2 linked regions of the Homo sapiens genome follow. The protein of the gene in region 2 interacts with the protein of the main gene of each other region in a pairwise test. Each region holds a gene or a part of one and is shown on either strand. Other genes may lie near its edges.

The links. The genes of interacting proteins can lie anywhere in the genome.
Region 1: the proteins of DHCR24 (region 2) and CCR4 interact in a two-hybrid assay, tested with the Homo sapiens proteins (one large-scale study listed by BioGRID and IntAct).

Annotation. Positions count from the first base shown.
Region 1 is NC_000003.12:32,950,189-32,954,443, reverse strand, and holds the start of CCR4 (C-C chemokine receptor type 4), read right to left. Parts: upstream 2,801-4,255; 5' UTR 2,754-2,800; intron 1,101-2,753; exon of another isoform or gene 1,073-1,100; 5' UTR 1,022-1,072; coding exon 1-1,021. UniProt on the Homo sapiens protein: High affinity receptor for the C-C type chemokines CCL17/TARC, CCL22/MDC and CKLF isoform 1/CKLF1. The activity of this receptor is mediated by G(i) proteins which activate a phosphatidylinositol-calcium second messenger system.
Region 2 is NC_000001.11:54,880,696-54,884,195, forward strand, and holds part of DHCR24 (delta(24)-sterol reductase precursor), read right to left. Parts: intron 3,079-3,500; coding exon 2,923-3,078; intron 1-2,922. UniProt on the Homo sapiens protein: Catalyzes the reduction of the delta-24 double bond of sterol intermediates during cholesterol biosynthesis.

The sequences.
Region 1 (4,255 bases), on a different chromosome or scaffold from region 2:
CAGCAGAGTAAATTTGGAGGAGCCCACAGTATTGGCAGAGCACAAAAAGGCCCCTGCAGGTTTTGAAGAGCTGTAGGATGTACTTGCGAAATTTCTCCCCCAGAAAAAAGTAGATGATGGGATTAAGGCAGCAGTGAACAAAAGCCAGAGTTTCTGTGGCCTGGATGGCATAGTCCAAGTATCTTTCAAAGGTGCAGTCCTGAAGGACTTCTAGCTCCACCAGGGTCTCTAGGAAGAGCACTATGTTGTAAGGTGTCCAGAACCCAAGGAAGAGGACCACCACGGCAAAGATCATCTTCACCGCCTTGTTCTTCTTCTCATTTTTACAATGCTGCAAGGTCCTGATGATCATGGAGTAGCAAAACAGCATGATCCCTAAGGGGATCACCAATCCGAGAATGTTGATTTCCAGGGAGCTGAGAACCTTCCACGTCGTGGAGTTGAGAGAGTACTTGGTTTTGCAGTAGGTATGGTTGCGCTCAGTATAACAAGTGCTGAACAGAAAGCCAGGAAGGGAGGCGAACACAGCCACTGACCATGTAGCCAAACTGGTGATGACCCCATAAGTCAAGGTCCTTGCCCTCAAGGAAAACACCGCGTGCACAATTGCCAGGTATCTATCAATGCTCATGAGCATGACAAAGAATATGCCACTGTAAAAGCCCACCAAGTACATCCAGGAAATCATCTTGCACAGACCTAGCCCAAAAACCCACTGGTCTGCTGCATAGTAGCCCCAAAAAGGGAGGGAAAACACGAAGAGCAGATCCGAGATGGCAAGGTTGAGCAGGTACACATCAGTCATGGACCTGAGCCGCTTGTATTTGAACAGGACCAGAACCACCACAGAATTTCCAAGCAGACCAAATACAAAAACCAAGGAATACAGTGGGGGCAGGAAGAGCTCCCCAAATGCCTTGATGCCTTCTTTGGTGCAAGGCTTGGGGATACTTTCATACAGATAGTAATTGCTGTATATGCTTTCATCGAGGGTGGTGTCTGCTATATCCGTGGGGTTCATTTTTTAACTCTACAGGCTCCTCAAGGCAGGTCTGGGCCCAACCAGAAGCAGCTAATGAGGGGAAGAGCAAAGGAGATTTCTGTGAGAACAAAAATAAACCAAAGTATTGCTAAATGCAGAGCATGGCTGCGTACTGTTTTGCTCCAGGTCTGTATATGCCTTTCCCAAGATGAAGGGCTCGATTACTCACAGGGCCCTGCAGCCAGACGAAATAATTTTGGGCTTTGGAGGCAGAAAGATTTGTTTCAGATTCCAGCTTGGGCACTCACTAATTTTCTTACCTCTCTGCCAGGAGCTTCAGTTCTCTCATTTGTAAGTGAGGATCGTAAAACCCCCTTTCAAGCAGGTGTTCTTTGAGGATGTGTTTCAAAAAGATATTTCATAGTCTGGGGTTACTGAAATCACTTTCAGGGATGACAAAATCAGTTGAACAATTCTCAATTGGGTGTATTTTATATGATCATGATCATCATCAAACTGCACGTAAAAATCAATTCTACGCACAGAATCCTATTAGAGTGGGAATTCACCTGATGGATCTAGAAAACACACATCACAGCCAGAAATAAAACCTCTACCTCCCCAACCACCTTCACTTCCTATCTAAATTGGCAGATAAAGAGGTTGAAATCTTCTTAAAATTAATCACATGCTGACATGTGTATCAGAGCAATTCAGGGCTGAAGGGCTTTCCGACTCAAGGCCACTCCCTTGCTTCCTTCTTGAGGCTTTTGTGGGACCCTCACATTCCTTGTTAAAATCCTTTTCACATTCGTCAGTAAATTCACATTCGATCTCTCCCCACACCCCCACCACCACACACCCAATGCCCAAACTGTGTTTCTCAAGAAAGGGCTTTTGAAGCCAGGTGTGCAGTGGCCCACGCCTATAATCCCAGCACGTCGGGAGGCCGAGGAGGGAGGATCACTTGAGCCAAGGAGCTCCATGCCAGCGTGAGCAACATAAGGAGACCCTGTCTCTACAAAAAATTGTTTTAAAAGTTAGCTGGGTGTGGTGGTACGTGCTGATAGTACCAGCTACTCAGGAGGCTGAGGCAGGAGGATCCCTTGAGCCCAGGAGTTCAAGGCGCAGTGAGCTATGATGGCACCATTGCACTTCAACCTGGGCAGCAGAGTGAAATCCTGTCTCAAAAAAAATAAAAAATAAAAAGGAAAGAAAAGAAAAAGAAAAAAAGAAAGAAAAAAGATTTTGGTTTACTCATGCAAATAGATACTGAACACCTGTTACATCACAGAGTCTCCAAAAAAGTTTGTTGAATGACTAACAATTCTAGTCTTTCTCCACCATTTTACCAGTGAAAATGAAAGGCATAAACAAGGCTGAGGAGTTAGGAAATTATCAGGAGAACAAAAAGCCAGGAGACACAGCTGGTAAGTGTCTGGAATTATTCTGTAGGCCTTGCGTGTGTGGTATTTCTTGCCTGGGAGTCTTGCTAGAAGCAAGAAGCAGACAAGTGTATATTTTTTATGAAAATGATCTATTTATTTGGGGCATGTGGACTCAGGCCAGATGTGTGCAGGAAGAGAGTCCTGCATAAATTAGTGCCCATCAGATGAGGGCTCAGAGGGTGTGGGGACAGGTAGAAGGTGTGTGGGCTGCAAGGTAGGTGCCAAGTGTAAGCCCTAGACTCGTGAGGGGCCTGAGCATCTCAGCCAGGTCCAGAAAGCAGTGTGCGACCCAAGACCCTGGGAATGTCCCCGTCCCTGCTTACCTTGCTTTTCTGAAAGCGGCTCTGAGGAAGGTCTGTGAGGCAATGCCAGGCTTGCTCAGGAAGCACGATGCTAAGAAGGACCCGGTGCCTTTCAAGGGTGCGTGGCTTCCTGTGAGCACGAGTTATCTCCCTCACCCAACTGTACTAAGTTCAAGTGGGGTTTTTTGATAGAAGTAGGAAGCAGAAAATGATTCTTAGTCATTTCCCAAGACCGAAGGCCAAGAAGATGTGCCAAAAAAAGATTAAGAAAAAAAATGAAGTCATTTTCTTTTTAAAAAAGATTTTTAGTTTTTTTAAAAATACAAAAATGTATTTGTTGGTTTTTAAAAAAGAGATTTTTTTAAAGAAACAGGGTCTCACTCTGTCACCCAGACTGGTGTTCAGTGGTGCAATCATAGCTCACCGTAACCTTGAACTCCTGGGCTCAAGTGATCCTCCTGCCTTAGTCTCCCAAGTAGCTGAGACTAGAGGTGCAAGCCACCATGACTGACTAATTTTAATTTTTGGGGAGATAGGGGTCTTGCTATATTGCCCAGGCTCATCTTGAACTACTGGCCTCAAGCAATCCTCCCACCTCAGCTTCCTAAAGCACTGGGATTACAGGAATCAGCCACTCCTTTTTCGCTTTTTAGTTTAAAAAAAAAAATTCCATTTAACTGGCCATATGCGGTAGCAATGATCTCTACATTTTGGATCAGCAACCTGTTTGCTAGTTTCTCATCATGGATATGCAGGGGCCAGCAATCAAGATGTGCAATGTTCTCCTGACAACTGGGATCTGAGAGGCCAGGGTGAGAAGGAAGGCCAGAGATAGTCAAGAAAAAGGATATTCAAGAAGAGAGAAGAGAAAAATTTGTCCAAATGTATGTGTCTGTGAGTGACTTGGAAGGCATCAGCCAACCACATTCTTTGATTCAATAGTTGACATGGCCTCAAACCAGTGTGAAGTGGCCTGGCAACATAGCTTCAAGTCCTTTTGAGTCAGGAAGACCCCTCACCCAAGCGCCTTCTGCTTGGGGATTGCGGAGCTTCATTGGCAGTGGTCTTGGCTGAGGTCTTGATCTTCACTTTGGATGTGGGTAGCAGTCATAAGCGAGGGGCTGACATGAGCCCTAAGTCTCTCATAGCCTCAGCTTTTTGGCAACTTCCAGATGCTTTCCCTGTGTTTCAACTGTTGCTTAGCTCTTTGATTCAGCTTAAAAGAGCCATAAAGATCATTCTTTCTAAGGAATTGGCATAAATAGAAATTAAAACACTGAGCTAGAATGGTGTTAGGGAACCCCTTCTTTTTTTTCATTATCACTTGCCCCAAGGAGTCTTTTGAGACTTTTTTTCCTAACACTCCCTCATAAAATTTTAATGCTACAAACATACCATATATCTATTTATACAGTGTATGTATATCTGTGCTTTATACATAAAATGAGTATGAAATTTTTCTCCCTCCAAGAGCCAAGTTTTATCTTGGGGGCAATATTGCCTCTACTGAGAATGCACGAGTT
Region 2 (3,500 bases):
TGGAGGTTGCCGAGAACTGAGATAGCACCACTGCACTCCAGCCGGGGCCACAGAGCTAGACTCTGTCTCAAAAAACAAAAATATAAACAAACAAACAAACAAACAAACAAAACCCCCACAATGCATAAAAGAAGAAATTAACAAATTGGGAAAAATTAAAACTTCTGATTTGGCCAGGCGTGGTGGCTCACGCCTGTAATTCTAGCACTTTGGGAGGCCAAGGCAGGCAGATCACCTGAGGTCAAGAGTTTGAGACCAGCCTGGCCAACATGGTGAAACCCCGTCTCTACTAAAAATACAAAAAATTAGCTGGGTGTGGTGGCACATGCCTGTACTCCCAGCTACCCAGGAGGCTGAGGCAGGAGAATCACCGGAACCTGGGAGGCGGAGGCTGCAGTGAACCAAGATCGTGCCACTGCACTCTAGCCAGGGCGACAGAGTGAAACTCTGTCTCAAAAAGAAAAACTAAATAAAGCTTCTGGTTTTCAAAAGAGAAGCCACAGACTGTGAGAAAATATTTGCAAATCATGAATCTAATAAAGGATGTTGTTTCAGGGTCTAATATCCAGCATCAATAAGGAACTTAAACAAACTTACAAGAACAAAACAACCCCCATTAAAAAGTGAATATAAAAAGGACATGAACAGACACTTTTCAAAAGACAAGCATGTGGCCAAGAAGCATATGAAAAAAAGCTCAACATTACTGATAATTAAAGAAATGCAAATCAAAACCACAATGAAATACCATCTGACACAGTCAGAATGGCTATTATTAAAAAGTCAAAAAATAACAGATGCTGGTGAAGTTGCAGAGAAAAAGGAACATTTATACACTGTTGGTGGGAGTGTAAATTAGTTCAACCATGTGGGAGACAGTGTGGTGATTCCTTAAAGACCAAAAAACAGAAGCAGCATTTGACCCAGCAATCTCATTACTGGGTATATATACCCAAAGGAATATAAACCATTGTATCATAAAGACACATGCATGTGTATGTTTACTGCAGCACAACTCACAATAGCAAAGACATGGAATCAACTTAAATGCCCATCAGTGGTAGACTGGATAAAGAAAATGTGGTACGTATACACCATGGAATACTATGCAGCCATGTTCCTTTGCAAGAACATGGATGCAGCTGGAAGCCATTATCCTTAGCAAACTAATGCAGGAACAGGAAACCAAATACCGCATGTTCTCACTTATAAGTGGGAGCTAAATGATGAGAACACATGGACACATACAGGGGAACAACAGACACTGGGTCCTATCAGAGGGTGGAGGGAGGGAGAAGGGAGAGGATCAGGAAAAATAACTAATAGGTACTAGGCTTAATACCTGGGTGATGAAATAATATGTACAACAAACCCCATGACACACGTTTACCTATATAACAAACCTGTACAGGTACCACTTAATTTAAAAGTTTAAAAGAAAAAAAAAAAAGATGTTTCCAGAATATATAAGAAAACCACCTGAATTTTTTTAAATTGGCAAAAGATTTGATCAGGCCTCACCAAAGAAGATATACAAATAGCAAACATGCACATGGAAAGATCATTAGTCACTAGGGAAATGTGAATTAAAATTACAATGAAAAACTACTACACATCTATTAGAATGGCTAAAATTAAGACTAACCATATCAAGTCTATTACAATGTGGAACAAGAACAACACTCACGCTGCTGGTGGAAATGTAAAATGCTACAATCACTTGGAAAAAAAATTTGGCACTTCCTTAAAAAGTTAAATGTACACCCACCTTATGATCTAGCCATTCCATTCCTAGATATTTGCCCAAGAGAAAGGAAGGCATGTGCCCATACAAAGACTGTTCACAAATGTTCCATTTTATTTGTAATTGCCCCAAACTGGAGCCAGCCAAAATGTCCATCAGTAGGTGAATGGATAAACCAGCTGTGATACATCCACACAATATGTGTGGGAATATGACTCAGCAGTGAAAGAGAATGAACTATTGACACACCTTTCAACATGGATGAATCTCCAAATAAAGATGTTGAGTGAAAGAGGCTAGACAAACAAAAAGTACTGTATGATTCCATTTATATAAACTCTAGAATCAAACTAATTTATAGTGGCAGAAAGGTCATTGTTTGCCTAAGGCTGTGGGGGGCGGGTAGGGGAAGAGGCAGGGCTAGGGGCTAGAGGAAGGGATTACCAAGGAGCATGAGGAGATTTTGGGGTGTGATGGGTATGTTTGTTGTCTTGATTGTGGTAAGAGTTTTACCACACTTTAAATACGTCAATAAAGCTATTAAAAAAAATGGCACAGAGAGATTAAGTAACTTGGCCAAGGTCTCACAATAATAACAAAATGCCATCAAGTAGACATACCATATTTAATGACTACCCTATTATTGGATATTGTGTTGTTGTCAATTAGAAATAAAGCTGTGATATAATCACTCTGTGTTGGGTATCTTTATACTGAAGCCTATTTCCTTTTTCCTTAAGCCAGGTTTCGAGAAGTAAAATTACTAGATGGGCCAAAAAGTATGTACATTTCGAAGGCTATTAAACAAGAGGGTTTCCAGGAAGCTTGTAACAAGACCCATGTCTCTCAGTCACTTCTGTAGCCCATTTTTTACCAGCACACTTCCTTATCAGGAAGGGGTAAGTAGATTCCTTTTTGCCTCTCATTTTTGCTCACGAATTCCCCATTCCTGACTTCCTGTGGAAACGCAAAGGGTTCCCCTGACCTATTATGACCCATCTCTCCCCTGGTGGCTGTGAGGCTTGAGGACAGCAATGGCAGGGAGTATCTTCTATGACTGTGGGCATTGGTCCTGTCCACTCTGCAATGCCCTTGGCTAAAATCATCTCCCTATGAGTCACTTGCACCAGGGGCAGTGCCCCACCTGCTCCCAGAGCCCGGAAAAGTGCTACTCTCACCTGTTTCTTGGTGTCCACTTCCAGAATGTCCATCAGGTTGATCATGATGTTTTTGTGTGTCTTCTTGTACTTCCCGACACGTAGTGAGACAGTGAGCCAGCCAGGGCGCCCCGTGCACATGAAGGTCTTGCTACCCTGCTCCTTCCATTCCCGCACCTGCAACCACAGGACAGAGGGTGAGCTGGCCCCACTGGGAATCCCCAGAGCAGCCTGCAGCCCTGCTTTCTTCAAGGGCGAGCTGGGAATGATGCCTCCATCAGGCACTGGAGAAACAGAACAATGAAAAGGCCTGCTGGCCCTACCCTCTGGCACCTCCCTGGCCAGCAAGGCTGACAGAAAAGCCAACATATTGCTACACCACAAGGCAGAATGATGAAAGAGCTAGAAGAGAGGATCGAAGTGTTCTGAAAACATTAACTCTAGCTGGGAAGTTCAGAAAAGGTTTTGTAATGGTGATAATAGCAAGTATAAAAATGAGGACCATTTACTGGGTATTCCCAACACACTAGGCATCTACTGCACACTGTCTTGTGTAATTCCTACAACAGTCCCAGGAAGTTACGATGACACCCTTTTTT